Homo sapiens: one gene and its partner. The protein of the gene in region 1 purifies or fractionates together with the protein of each later gene. This does not show direct contact. Each region holds a gene or a part of one and is shown on either strand. Other genes may lie near its edges.

Evidence for each region. Proteins that work in one complex are often made in the same cells at the same time.
Region 2: the proteins of TMEM65 (region 1) and MPZL1 purify together in Homo sapiens (affinity purification with mass spectrometry; 2 studies listed by BioGRID and IntAct, with this or other methods). This does not show direct contact.

What each region holds. Positions count from the first base shown.
Region 1 is NC_000008.11:124,305,442-124,315,026, forward strand, and holds the end of TMEM65 (transmembrane protein 65), read right to left. Parts: intron 8,621-9,585; coding exon 8,519-8,620; 3' UTR 748-8,518; downstream 1-747. UniProt on the Homo sapiens protein: Essential for maintaining proper cardiac intercalated disk (ICD) structure and function as well as cardiac conduction velocity in the heart.
Region 2 is NC_000001.11:167,786,694-167,792,419, reverse strand, and holds the end of MPZL1 (myelin protein zero-like protein 1 isoform a precursor), read right to left. Parts: intron 4,601-5,726; coding exon 4,499-4,600; 3' UTR 501-4,498; downstream 1-500. UniProt on the Homo sapiens protein: Cell surface receptor, which is involved in signal transduction processes. Recruits PTPN11/SHP-2 to the cell membrane and is a putative substrate of PTPN11/SHP-2.

The DNA of each region.
Region 1 (9,585 bases):
ATCATTTATATATATATATATATTTTTTATATTTATATATATATGAGACAGTATTCAGCCATAAAAGATAATAAAATCATGCCTTTTGCAGCAATGTGGATGGAGCTGGAGGTCATTATCTTAAGTGAAACATCTCAGAAACAGAAAGTCAAATACCGTATGTCCTCACTTGTAAGTGGGAGCTAAATAAGGTGTACAGAAGGACATAGAGTGTGGAATGATGGACACTGGAGACTTGGAAGGGTGGGATGGTGGAAGGCAGGCATATAAGGGATGAGAAATTACTTAATGAGTACAATGTAGACTAATCAGGTAATGGTTACATTAAAAGCCCAGGCTTCACCGCTATGCAATATACTCATGTAACAAAACTGCACTTAAACCCCTTAAATTTATACAAACTTTTTTAAAAGCAAGAAAAAGAAAACACCCTTTGGGGACATCAATATTTTTCCAGAGCATTAAGTTCTTGAGTGTTAAGTTCTTAAATGTTAAGATCTTAAGGCCAAAACGTTTAAAATAATTGATTTATGATATCTAAAGAATTTGAAGTATAACCACAAAACTGTTCTGTTTATAAAATATGAGAATAGTAAAAGTATTAAGCCCAGAGTTAGGTAAGCAATGTCACGTTAAGAAGAGAGGGGGCAGGCACATTCTAAAAATTGTACATCAATATACTTAATATTAATCCTCAGGGCAAAAGGTTAGAGAACAGATTCAGCAGAAAGTAAAATAACCATTAGCTCCATTAACCCAACACAAGTTTATTTACTAAGTCAAGTCAAACTGAGGAGTATTTGTTTCTTTGGTAGTTGGTAGACAAAGAATACATATACATATTCTATTTCCCATTAAGCATTTGATCATGTTACAAAACAATGGCCTAGAGAACTATCATTGAAGATTTACCAAATCTGCCTGAAGCAAAATGTGATAAACTGCAGAAATGGTGGAGAATGACACTGGAAGTCATAAAGTTGATTCTCAAACACGGGTTTGAACTGCATAGGACCGCTTATATGCATATTTTGATAAATATATTGAAAATTTTTTTGGAAATTTGCAACAATTTAAAAAACTTGCAGATGCACCATGTAGCTTAGAAATACTGAAAAACTAAGAAAAAGGTGTGTCATGAATTCATATAATATATGTAGACACTAGTCTATTTTATCATTTACTACCATAAATATATACAAATCTATTATGAAAAGTTAAAATTGGCCGGGCGCAGTGGCTCACGCCTGTAATCCCAACACTTCAGGAGGCCGAGGCAGGCGGATCACCTGAGGTCAGGAGTTCAAGAGCAGCCTGGCCAACATGGTGAAACCCTGTTTCTCCTAAAAATACAAAAATTAGCTGGGCATGGGGATGCATGCCTGTAATCCCAACTACTTGGGAGGCTGAGGCAGGAGAATCACTTGAACCCAGAAGACAGAGGTTGCAGTGAGCCGGCATGGTGCCACTGCACTCCAGCCTGGACAACAGAGCAAGACTCCATCTCAAAAAAAAAAAAAGTTAAAATTTATCAAAACTTAACGCATACACAGACTATACATTGGAGCCATTTGCAGTTGAGACAAACATAAAGATGCAGTACTAAATTACAACTGGATAAGATTAACTATAGTACATACTGCACTACTACCATAATTTCAGAGCTACCTCCTGTTGCTGTTGCTGTGAGCTCAAGTGCTGTATTCACTTAAAATGCCATGTGATGTTTATCATCTCCACATGGGCAGTTCATCTCTCCAGTAAATTGTGTATCGTAGTAAAAAGTGATCTCTCATGGTTCTCAGTTATTTTTCATCATGTTTAGTACAACCATAAACCTTGCAATAATACCAAGGGACCCATATGAAGTCCCGCTAGTGACGCTGGAAGTGCTCCCAAGGAGCAAAGTCATGACATTACAAGAAAAAGTTAAATTGCTTGATGTGTACTGGTCTGCAGCTGTAGTTGCCCATCCTTCAAGATAAATGAATCCAGCATAAGGACCACTGTTAAAAAAAATTAAGAAAATTTATGAAGCCATTACTGCATCTATACCAGCAAACCTTACACTTTTTGTGATATACCTTTTTATCTCGTATTAAAAATGCAACTTTTATGTGGGTGCAGTATTGCTACAAGAAAGACGTACCTATAGGCTCTAATATGATTGGAGAAAAGGCGGTCATTATATGACAATTTAAAGCAAAAGGAAGGTGAAGGATCTAAATCTAGAGAATTTAATGCCAGCAAAGGATGGCTTGATAATATTAGAAAGAAGTTTGGCTTTAAAAATGTTAAGATAACAGAAGAGGCAGCTCCTGATGACCAAGAGGCAGCAAATGAGTTCCCAGATGCCATTAAGAAAATCATTGAGGAGAAAGCATATCTACCAAAACAGGTTCTTAAGGCAGACAGAAGTGCCCTATTATGGAAAAATAATAATATGCCACAAAGAACATTTATTAGTAAAGAAGAGAAGTGAGCACCAGGGTTTAAGGCAGAAAGGGACAGGCTAATGCTATGGGTTTTTGCAAATGCTGTTGGGTTTATGATCAAGACTGCACTTATCTATAAAGCTGTTAACTCCCAAGTCTTGAAGGGAAAAGATAAACACCAGCTGCCAGTCTTCTGGCAGTATAACAAGAAGGCCTGGACGACAAGAACCCTTTTTCTGGATTGGCTCCATTGCTGTTTTGTCTTTGAAGTCAGGAAGTACCTTGCCAGTAAAGGACTGCCTTTTAAAGTTGTTTTGATACTGGACAATGCCCCTGGCCACCCACCCAGAACTCCATGAGTTCAATACTAAAGGCATCGAAGTGATCTATTTGCCCCCAAACACAATGTCTCTAATTTAGTTTCTAGATCAGGGAGTCATAAGGACCTATAGGCTCATTACACACAGTACTCTATGCAAAGAACCATCAGTGCCATGCAAGAGAACTCTAACAAAGAGAACATCATCAAAGTCTGGAAGGATTCCACCACTGATGATGCCATTGTTGCTACAGAAGACATGAAAGCCATCAAGCCCAAAACAATAAATTCCTGCTGAGGAAAACAACCAGATGTTGTGTGTGACTTCGCAGAATTTACAACAGAGCCAATCAAGAAAATCATGAAAGAGGTTGTAGATATGTCAAATTAAATAAATAAATAAATGGTGGAGGGTAGAAAGTTTCAAGATCTGAATCCTGGAGTGAATCAAAAGCTAAGCAATTCAAAAGCTTAGCTTTTGGAGATGAGTGCCTCTGAATCAGTGCCACAGAATGAGGAGGAAGACATTTAGAAGCAGTGCCAGAAAACAAATCAACATTAGACAATCTGGTAGAAGTGTTCTGATTATTCAAGACTGATTTTACAACATGAACCCTTCTATCACACAGGCACTAAAACTAAAGCAAATGGTGGAAGAAGGATTAATACCATATATAGAAATATTTTGAGAAATGAAAAAAAGCAAAACATCAGACAGAAGTTACAATGCATTTTCATAATTACACGTAGTGTGCCTGCCTTTCCTGCTTCCCCTTGCACCTCTGCTACCACTAAGAGCAAGACCAATCCTTCCTCTTCCTCCTCCACCTCAGCCTACTCAACATGAAGACAAGGAGGATGAAGACTTTTATCATGATCCACTTAATGAATAGTAAATGTATTTTCTCTTCCTGATGATTTTAATAACATTTTCTTTCTTCTACCTTTATTTTAATACAATATATGATACATATAACATACAAAATACGTGTTAATCTACTGCTTATTTATCAGAAAGGCTTCCAGCCAATAGGAGGCTATAAGTAAAGTTTGGAGAGAGTAAAAAGTTGTATTCAGATTTTCAGCAGCACAGGGGGTTGGTGTCCCTAATCCCTCCATTGTTCAAGAGTCAACTGTAAATGATTTGCTGATGGGAATATCTACAGACTTTTTTGAATTCTAGGGTTGCTTCCCCACACTTCTGTGCCATTTTCACCTACTGCTGTCAGTAAACATGCAAGAAGTAAGTATTAATCTTAATATTTAACTGTTACTCTTTAGGCTTAATGCAGTTATTAGTAATATGAAACAAAAAGAAAACATTTTACAATGAATTCCAAAGTGAAACATATTTCACATATCTGAGATTTTCTTAACACCAACTTTCTAGTACCTAGCATGATACTTTCTCTTCACAGAATATCTGTACTGTTTGTACCTTCGCTTCCTTCAGGTCTTCACTGACCATCTTCACTTATGACCACTGGTACTTTCTATCCTCTTTATCTTGTTTCATTTATCTCTATAGAACTTACCACCATCTGACATAAACAATATTTAAGTGTATATTTGCAGGTGGGCGCAGGGGCTCACGCCTGTAATCCCAGCACTTTGGGAGGCCGAGACAGGTGGACCACCTGAGGTCAGGAGTCTGAGGCCAGCCTGGCCAACATGGTGAAACCCCGTTTCTACTAAAAATACAAAAAAATTAGGCTCGGTGGCACGTGCCTGTAATCCCAGCTACTCAGGAGGTCAGGAGTCTGAGGCCAGCCTGGCCAACATGGTGAAACCCCGTTTCTACTAAAAATACAAAAAAATTAGGCTCGGTGGCACGTGACTGTAATCCCAGCTACTCAGGAGGCTGAGGCAGGAGAATCACTTGAACCCAGGAAGCAGAGGTTGCAATAAGCCAAGATCACGCCACTGCACTCCAGCCTGGGTGACATCAAGACTCCATCTCAAAAAAAAGTATATTTGCTTTTCTGTGTTCTCTTCCCCTATTACTACCCACCCCAAAAGAATAAGCTTCATGAGGGTACAGATGTTCTGGTTGTTCACTCAGTGCCTTGAACATCCTAGCACATAGTATGTAATAAAGAACACAAGATTTCTTAAATGAATCTTGGATTGTAAGCACAATATTCTTAAATTATAGATAAGAAAATGACTCCATGAATCTGGAGGTAAAAAGGAACCTAGGCAGAGAGCAGACATTGCAAAGCCCATGCAACTGATGTCCCTACTGCCTAGCAGTTAAGAAGACAGGCTTCATACTTGGACAAAATAGGATTCCAGTCCACTTATTCGTAGTGGCAAACTAACCTCTTCATGCCTCAATTTAGCTATGAGAAAATAGAGATGATAATGATAATAGCCCCAACTTAATGTTGTCATTAAGGTGATTAAATGCAATAATGTGTGTAAATTACTAGTGCATAAAGGACCAAATAAGTGTTTAATAAAAGGGAACTATTATTATTACTACTACTACTATCATCATCATCATCTCAGTCAGGATCCAAAGCCAATTTTTTAGTATTTCCCAAATAATTTATGGTAAGATAGGCTAACCAGTTTCTAAGTCCAGACAACTGAGAAAAAAAGCAGATTAGAGAGATAAAAGTTGCCAGAAGCAAGATCAGAAAAAAAAATGAAAACTATAAAAACTAGATTCTCAAGGTACTGCATTACCACACAATAATAATATACATAAAGATAATGCTTAGCCACTAAGAAAAAGGTTATATTATATTTAATATACTGTCTTAAGATGGCGAGAAAATATAATTCTAAAATTAGAAAGATTTACTTCAAAATGGCTCATACAAACTTTTGGTATAAAAGATAAACTTCCATTACCTTCAAAATTTATGTTCTAGAGAAAAAGAATAAAGTAAATGAGACTATTACATAAACAGCTTGGATATATCTGCTGTAAATACCCATCAGTGTGACTTATGTGAGTCTATCTAAAGCTTTTCTATGGGCTCACTCTTCACTCATACGCTGATGTTGTATCTCAGGTGCAGATTCCAGGGAGGTGGTAAATTGTTCCATTCACTATCTCAGTGACATTGCTGCCACCTTGTAACAAATCCGTATTCATTAATCCTGTTTGCTTTAGTAACAGAATATACCAAGGCCCTCTGAGATTAGTAAGAAATCAAATTTCAAAATCAAAACCACATTCCAAATTTCTTAAAAGATACTTTTTTTGTTCAATTCCTTTGTAAAAACATTGGTCACCATTTAACATACATGGCAACAAAATGCACCCAATTTACATGCATCAACAAGTTAATAAATCATAATACATGGACAACACAAATTTAAACAAACAGGACTAAAGTAGCTCATGTTGCATTTAACTATGGTTCTTGTGCTCCTAATAGAGAAGTAGCTAATATGAGAAACAAACAGTTCCAGTTTCAACCTAAATTAAAGTTATTTGTGGCAAGTAACATGAAACAATGATCATATGAAGTCATTATCTTAAAAAGAACCATTCTTCAGAAATCACTTTGTGGCAAAGCACCATACTAGGGTAGACTATGATCTTAAACATATACCTTCAGTTAAAGACAAATGGTCTCCATTTTTTGAAAATTACCTGAATGATTCAAATTTTTATTATGCCCATAAATTAAAATTATCTTTCAATGTGAAGGTTATATATTTTGACACCTTAAATAATTCTGGAGATGTTCAGTTAAACCAGTAATTCCCTGGGACCAGATTACTTTCAAGAGCAAGAAGAAAAAACAATAATCAAAAGCCCTTTCTAAAGTCACAGGCAAGGTTTCTGATACGGGATTTAATTAATAAGAAGTTAAGCACCACAGTAAAATACATTTTTAGAAAACAGAGTGGACTGCCATCAATACACAAGTTAGGGACAAAAGAAAGCACTTACACTTTACCCCACCCTTCCCCCCCCAAAAATTTAAGCACTCTAATCCTATCAATCAGAAATTTTACAAAGGATTTTTTGTGTGGTTATCTGTGTGTGGTTATTATATGGAAGATACAAACCGAAATTCTATTTAAGATCTCAAGTTCTAGAATCATGATTTGATTCAGTAAGAATGTCACATTATTTGTGCATGTTATATATTTATTTTTAGATTATATGCTATATTTTTATGCTTTCTCTCCTCAAAGTCTATGATTAAAGGATGGCACTTATGCATTCTGAAGCGCATGAGAGAATTTATGACAAACTGCCTTGTGAAAAAATATCTACTCTGAAGAGTTCAAAGTAATTATGTATAAATAAAACCTTAAAATAAACTGCTGTAAAACCTCTGCATCTATTTAGCAACACAAATAACTTCAAAAGCCAAAATACTATTTTAATTTTAAGTTTCTCTCCTCCATGATGTGTTTAATTACGCTGTTACAAGTAAGACTAATTTTTTAGCATGTGTAACAGACCACATGCTAAAAAAGTTTAAGGGTTCAGAAAACTAAAATTTATAATTCTTACATGGTTATACTTAAGCCAGAAGTACAAGACTAGAAATAAGTAACTTCAACCTAAAATATGCTTTAAATACCACAAAAGAAGAAAAAAGAAAAACAAAGGGAAAAAGGATTTCTCCTCATGTAATTTTTGAGTAGACTATGTAGCAAAAAAGCAAAATATTAAATATCTAGTTTTCACTTCAACAGAAATTATTCATAAATAAAATTCACTAAATAAGATATAATGAGATTAGGAGTATGAATATGGGGTATTCAGACTTATTCCATTCAGATGAGAAGATGACATCTTTGGAGGGAAAAAAAAAAACCTTACCAAATAATATAAATTGTATCTCATTAATCTTTCAAACATCACTTCAACTTCATCATTTATACCATAAACCTTCTTGACAGTTCCTATTTTCCACCTTTTTTTAAAAAAAGCTTTAGTCTCTTAATTTCCAAGCATCATGTTAAATCCCTTAGTTCAATCTAATTCCACAATCCCCATTTCAAAGACTCTAAAATAATCATTTGCTTCCCCTCAAAAGTCAGAATCCACCATGTAATTATTCAAAACTGGGAAACTAAAAGGTTAAAAAAAATCAACTAAAAATTGTACGCTTGTTAGTATACACGGTTTCATGTAGCAGGGAGACCACATAATTGCTCTTTGTGATTAACCCTCTGGCCCTTAAAATAGTAAAGTCAGAAAATTAAAATAAGTAATATATACTTAAAATACTTAAAACCTGTATCTATATCCATTTTCAATAGATGTGACAGTTAAGAAATGACTGAAATTATATTATTATAAATGTTTACTGCATAACAGTACAAAATTGATGTTCCCAAAAAGAGGGTAAAAAAATCTTTAACTGACATTAAACATCTTAAGTAATTTGGAAAAATCCCAAGGTTGAAATGTAACTATCAGGGAACAACGAAAAATGCTTTCATGCATGTACACATGTTAAGTAACAAATAAGCAAACCCCAAGTCAATACAGTACATCAATGACACTTAAATAACATTATGAATATAAAAAGAAAGGATAAAATGTTGACTGCTATTGATGAAAAAGCATTTCAACAATATACACAAAATGATACTAAACAGCTTTTTAAAAAAGATGTCCTAAGAAGATCAAGCCACAATAAGTTAGTGTTTTCCATAATACATGCTAAATTATTTGATCCCATATCTATACTGTTACTGTCTTAATTCCTAAATGTTGTGACAGCATATTTAATTACTGAGGTACATTAGTTTACATCTTTTTATAGGTATTCTAAGAGGATTAACTTTTCGTTTCCAGTTTTTCATCTTCTTCACCTCCTCCAAAGAAAATTAAAGGAAACATTCCTAGAATGCAGCCAATAGTCACCCCAACAGCTTTGCCCTAAGGAAACAAAAGAGAACATTTTTAAAGTTACTTTATCTCTGATAACAAGAAGGCAGAGAAAAAATCTCACCAGCTCTTCTCAATATATTTGGATTTGCTACCCTTCATATATATTCCTCTTCAATATTTATCCCTGTGTATACCTAATTATATGTAGATATAATCATTATGTAAACATAGCTTTGTTTTCTTCCTCAATCCGTACCCCTGCATAGCCACACATTTTCTCACAAACTCTTTTCCAAACTGCTACACAAACTTAAAGACTTCTAAGTTCAACTGAATTGACGGGTCTATATTCTACTTAAATCTCTCTTTACCGCCATAGCCACTGCTACTTCTTCAACATTATAAGTGAAATAACAATAAGCATTTCCATGTATATTTCTTCCCCAATGATTTGTTTAAAAGTCAAACAGTATTAATATTTGTGCATCTTCATGAAGCATTCATCCTTGACAACGCTGCACATACTTACATAGCAATTTCAGTATACATAAATGTAGACACACATACCAATTATCCTGCAACTTCACCTACATTATAAAAATTTTATTTCATTTTTATTTATTTTATTTGTTTTAGAGACAGGGTCTCCCTTTGTCACCTAGGCTGGAACGCAGTGGTATGATCATAACCCACTGCAGCCTTGGCTCAAGCCATCTTCCTGATCTCTTCCCGAACTCTTTGGCTCAAGCGAGCCTCCTGACTCAGTCTCCCCAGTAACTAGAACTACAGACACATGCCACTATGCCTAGATAATTTTGTTACTTTTATTATTTTTTTTTTTTGTAGAGCCAGGGTCTCCCTATGTTGCCCAGGCTGATCTTGAACTCCTGGCTTCAAGAAATCCTCCCACCTTGGCCTCCCAAATGAGATTACAGGCTCTGGGAGCCACCACACCCAGATCATTATAAAAATTTAAAATTGTTATTTTTGTAAATGGTTTTCAAAATTTGCAT
Region 2 (5,726 bases), on another chromosome or scaffold:
AGGATGAAGTCAGTGGTTCCCCAGTCCAGTTAGCACAGGAACTACCCAGAGGGGTCAGAAGGGAGCCAACTGGGGTGAGAGAGTATCTGAGTTTCCTCTAAACACTGCTCAACTCAGCTCCCTCAGGGGTGGAAGCTGCTCTCATAAATAAAAAGTCCATCTTTGGTTGGCAAGGCCCCTATGTAGCTTGGAAACCAGAGCCCCAGCAGGTGGATGCCCTCCGACACTTAGTGCTGACTTGGAAGGAATTGCAGAGATGACAAAAATGTGATTCCATCACTCACTGCTGCCCTTGTGTGGTGAAGGAAGCATCCCTTTTCTTTTTGTCACATCACGCAAGATGGATGCTGTTCACATGTGAGAATTACTCCCAGGGGAGTTCCTGCCAGCTGTAACTCATCTTCTCCCACTCAAGAACGCATTAGGTTTTGCAAGCCCAAAGTTATGCAAGGCAGGGGCTCATTGTGAATCCATGGTAATTTATAAAATTACTAAGTCACTGCGAAGCCTCAATGTTTTATTAGTAACACATTATTTGTAACATAGTTCTCAACAAATTAAGTCACCACATTGTCTTCCAGACTGAGGTTAAAGCTCTCAGACATCTGTGCCTACCACCTAGACTACACTACCCTCTCAAGTTCCTAAGGGACTCTCTAACCAGCTCCTAAGGGACTGGGAGAAAACTGCAACTGCATTTCAGCACATTTATTTGAGTAAGGAAGCAGTTTGGTACTTCCTTTTGGTGTGAGAGGCCACAGGGCATAGTGGTTAGGAACAAGGCTGTGGATCAAACAGCGGCCCCAGGCCCAGCCCCTCTTCTCTGTTCCTTTATTAGCTAAGTGGCCCTGGGTAAGCCATATAATCTTTCAAACAATGGGATTAAGATTAGTACAATTACTGTTAACTCACAGAAATAATAGAGAAAGAAATGCAAAGTGCCTGGCTCACACCAAGTATTTGGTAACTACTAGTTACTTCCATTCATGTCACCTGTCACCTCCACCCTGTGGCAAGCTCCTTGAGGAGCTTTGTCTTGTTTTGTTTCCTTATGCTTAGCACAGTGCTTGGCACAGGATTGTTCTCAGTGTAGGTTGCTGAATGGATGAATGCTTCCACCTACTCATCCATCCACGTAACATGTATTGAGCAGCTAAGTGCCAGGTGCTGTTCCCTTTACTGCAGACGGAGCAGTGAACAAAACAGCAAGGTTCTGGTCTCTTGTTAACTATGTTCTAATGCGGGAGAACAGACAAGTGTGTACTGGGAAAGAGGGAGAGAAATAGAGTAACTAGAGCAGAACTGAGGGGGCCAGGAAGGCTGAGGCGGTGGGGTGGGGGGCTTGCTCTTTTATATATCACAGAAGGTCTCCCTGAGGAGGTAACATTTGAGCAGAGGCTTAAAGGAAGTCAGAGAGCAAACCACAGGAATATTGGCAGAAGGCATGCTTCAGGCCCAGGGAACAGCATGTGCAAAGGCCCAGAAGCAGGCACACGGACGGCATTTTTGAAGAAAAGAAGGCAGGTGTAGCTGGAATGATATGAGTGAAAGGCATATCTCTTTTTCTATTCTGGTCAAAATGAGCACACAACACAATTCAGAAATTGAAAAAGATGTATTAAAATATTCACAAAAATACAACTGAAGATCAAAAAATAATAATGAGCTTGATGGTTTTTCCCTAGCTGATATATTTCCATTGAAAAACTAGAGATAGTTTGAAATTTCAATCTCTAAGTAATGCCTTTTGAGTGCTCCCATACAGAATTAGCGCATAATTTTAAGACGACCCTGTTTGCCAGGACGAAGACATGGAGAGGGCAGATCTGCCCTTTAGGCAACCTTAGTTCGTTATCTGCAACCAGGAAAGGAGTGCTGAGGCACAGGGAAAAGGGGAGCCAAAAGGGCTGCAGGGGTGGGTGTGCAGGGCTTGGGAAGAGGTCCTGCCCTGAGAGGCTCATCTCAGTGTGAGCAGCTTCCTTCAGGGAAACCTGTCCTGGCAGAGCACCATGCTGGCAGCTGCCCTTGCCTGGGGGGAAGGTTGGTGAGAACTGGTGAGGATTCTCTGCCAGAATGCCAGGGCACTGACAGAGTTTGAGGTGTCTGGTTGGGCAGGAGGCCAAGAAGTCGGGCTGGGGAAGGGAGTGGTAAGGGAGGAACAGGCCTCCAGGTGTCATTCGAGTGAGTGGCCCCCACAGCACCAGCTTCACCAACACATGGTCCCGGCACCGCAAGAAGAAGTGAAGGCTCTTGCTCTCAGGGAGCTCCGAAATGTTTCATTTATTCACAGGAACTGTTGAGAAAGCAGTGAAAAAACAATGCCCCTTTTCTCTGTAAAAAACGACTGTAAGGAAACATGACACAGGCCTGTCTACAATGTGTGTCCTCTGTACCTCAAGCACAGCCCTGGTCAGCTATGTGGTTTTCATGGTGGCAAAGGCTCACCAGGAGTCTCAGCTTGAAGGATGGTGACAATCTCAACACCCTTCCCCTCCAAACATAAGAGGCCTTCCAAAGGCTCCTATAGTTTTCAAAATAGATGCCCAAAAAGTTTTAGGATGCAAGGCAGAGTTGACCACTTTGTGGAAATGTCTCAGGGCCAGCACTGTGTGTCACTCTCTTGGGCTGGGCCTATGAACATGGAAGGCAGCAGGGCAGGCGTTTTTTTCTCCATTCCACACAGAACACAGAGCAGACGCTGCCCAGCTTCAGACATGTGTGGTGACCAAACCTGATCCCTGTTGACTCACACAGATGTGGCATGTAAGGTGGAGCGTTACAAGAATAACAAAAATAGCTCCTCAAAAAACAAAAGGCTTCATGTATGCAACAGCATTAGTTTTGAAGCTCATATGCCCTTTATCTTACCACCTTGTGCACACCTCAAAATCTCAATCCTGTTTTATTCCCTTTGTGAATTCTGTTGGAACTCAGCCTTCAAACATCCCCAGAAGATGACAAGATGAGAAGAAAAAGCAGCAGCTCATAATGGACTCCAAACTACAGGGAGAAAAAGTAACATTGCCCCTCACTCCCACTCACCCCAAACACGTTCTGCAGACCATCTAGACAGTAATTCTTTCCATAACTGTGGGCTTTCGAACAATTTTAAAAGGGGGGAAATTTAAAAAAAAATTCAGAAAATGGGAGAAATGACAACATAAGTGTTGAATGATCTTCACCACACTTTCCATTCCCAGTAAAAAGTAAAAACTCATAGATTTTAAGTGCGGTGGGGAGTAGTGAATAGGAGAAAACAAGTTTTAGGGAAGGACAGCCAAACTGTCTAATCTAGGCTCTCATTAACCTCAACAGTCTTTGAGGCACCATGAAGCTGTTATAAAGCCATGACTGATGCTGCCTCTTGCTGGAAGCATGACTGACGCTTTATAAAGAAGGTGATTCTTGCCAGCTGCAGTGGTGCAACTATAGTTCGTTCCAGCTACTCGGGAGGCTGAGGAGGGAGAATCACTTGAGCCCAAGAGTTCAAGGCTAGTCTGGGCAACATAGTGAGACTCTACCTCAAAAAAAAAAAAAAAAGCGAAAGAAGGTGATTCTCTAGAGAGCGAGCTCTGGGAGATTGGAGAGCGGCAACATAATGATACCATTTCTGCCTACTTAGAAGGAAAGAAACTCCTCTCCTTTAGCTGTATGGTGACTGTTATTTCAAGCAGAAAGGACATCAGCAAAGAATAAAACCGATACTTTTTACTCTCCACGTTACAAAAGTTCTCAAGCAAAGCTTGGATTTTCTACTTAATCAGTATTGATCCAACTGTGTCCAGAATGAAGTGACCTTCGGCATTTATCCTTTGCTAATCTTGCTATTATGAATCCAGAAATTGATATGACACATTTCAAGGGTGCAAACTTAAAGTAAGTCTACACAACATGTAAGGCTAACAATTGCCCCATATTTTAGTGAGAAAAACTTCAAAAAAACTTCTCAAATTGTTTTCAAGTGGCATAGCCAATGGGTATTTTTTAAAAGCGGCAGACAAATAAATGGTACTGATACTGTGCTAAAGGCCACCCTGGGTATGCTTCCATCATAGCATCTCCATCCTCCAACTACAGTAAATGCTAAGACTAATCAGTCTTAAGCCCTTAGATTAAAAGGCCATGTCTACTGGAAATACTACAGGATCTGCTATTGTCTCCATTAAGGCAAACCATTTCTAAATGATGGTGAAAGGAATGTTTCTGAAATCTCCCAATTGTAAATGACCTGAAAAGAAAGTACAAAAACAGCAAGACAATGGGTACATATGTAGAATCATACCATCTTTTCATCATGCAACACTGGCTCCTCATATCAGGATGACTAAATAGAATATTTATACATATCCTTTGTACACATCTTTCTCTCCCTCTGTGAGTACACGTGTACTTGTCCTTGCCTGGGTCTCCAAGGCTACATGTGGTAATGGGCTACATTTTCTGCACGAGAGTCCAGTTTGGTTTTGTTTCTTGCTGAGGATATGTTCTAGGTATTCTCTTAATTCTTTCGGATATCCGCATACACCACAGACTCTGACTTGTTAATCTTGTCACTGTGATGTCCGCCGGAGTGGTCTAACTGTGCATATATGACTGGGCCCTGGAAAAGGGAAGCAGAAGGATTAGAGGACTGAAAACGCTGGCGGTTCCTTCAGCTACAGGCATAGAAGCAATGATTAACGTGATCACATCAGGGTTCCAAAGCAAAGACTTCCCTCTTGAATGTCTTCAGGAAGACTTCTTATGGATGATACATCCAGGACTGACTTTGAAACAAGATTGGACATACGTTGACAATAGTTAAAGCAAGTACATGGGGCTTTGTTACATTATTCTTTCAAACCTTTTTGATGTTTGAAAATTTCTGTAATAATATATTCCTTCTTAGGAATATCTCTTATCTTAATAGCTATCACAGAATTCCTCAGCTCTTACAATTGGGGTAAGAGTCTTAAGGACTAAGATGGGAACTTCCACGCACCTGAGACCCACAGAAATCATGAGCTTCAGAATAATCAATCCATGCAAGAAACCAACATATTTGGTGCCACCCAAAGATACAATCAATTTGATCTGGTCACGTTATACAAATAGGTATAGTTTTAAACAAATAGTTTAAAAGCACTTCAAATATTCTTCAATACAACTACTTACAGCATAATTCTTTTAGTCTGAGCGTATTGTGACCAATACAAATATTGCTTCCTTGATTTTTAATATCAGATAACTGTTCTTCCTGTTTTAAAATAAAATTAAAAAGAAAAAACAAAAAGCCACAATCTACACAGATATAAAGAAAAACCCTAAATGGAGTAAAGTAGAAAAGATCCTCTTCTCAGCCTCAGCAGTAAGGAAGAGGTTACAATTCCAGGGAATTGTCAGGGTCCCATTCAGGAGAGCAAGGGAAGGTTGGGTGGCCTGGGGGCAGAGCGAATTCCCTAACTGTTGGGGGAAGAGGTCAGATAGGTGGCTGCATTTCATGACTCTTTCAGTCTAGACTCTTAAAATTGTAAACAACAACAAAATAGCCCTGGTTTTAAAAGAAAGATTTAATATTACCCAATGTCAACTTTTCTCCCAATCTAGGGGAACTCTCCTTGAGAAGTCTAATAACGTGCTTAAGCTTTCACCTTTGAAATCATAAGCTCAATAGCCAAAAGCACGTGGTTTAAAATAAACACACTTACCCTCATCCAGGAGCCCTAACAACCTGTGTCCTTAGTGTG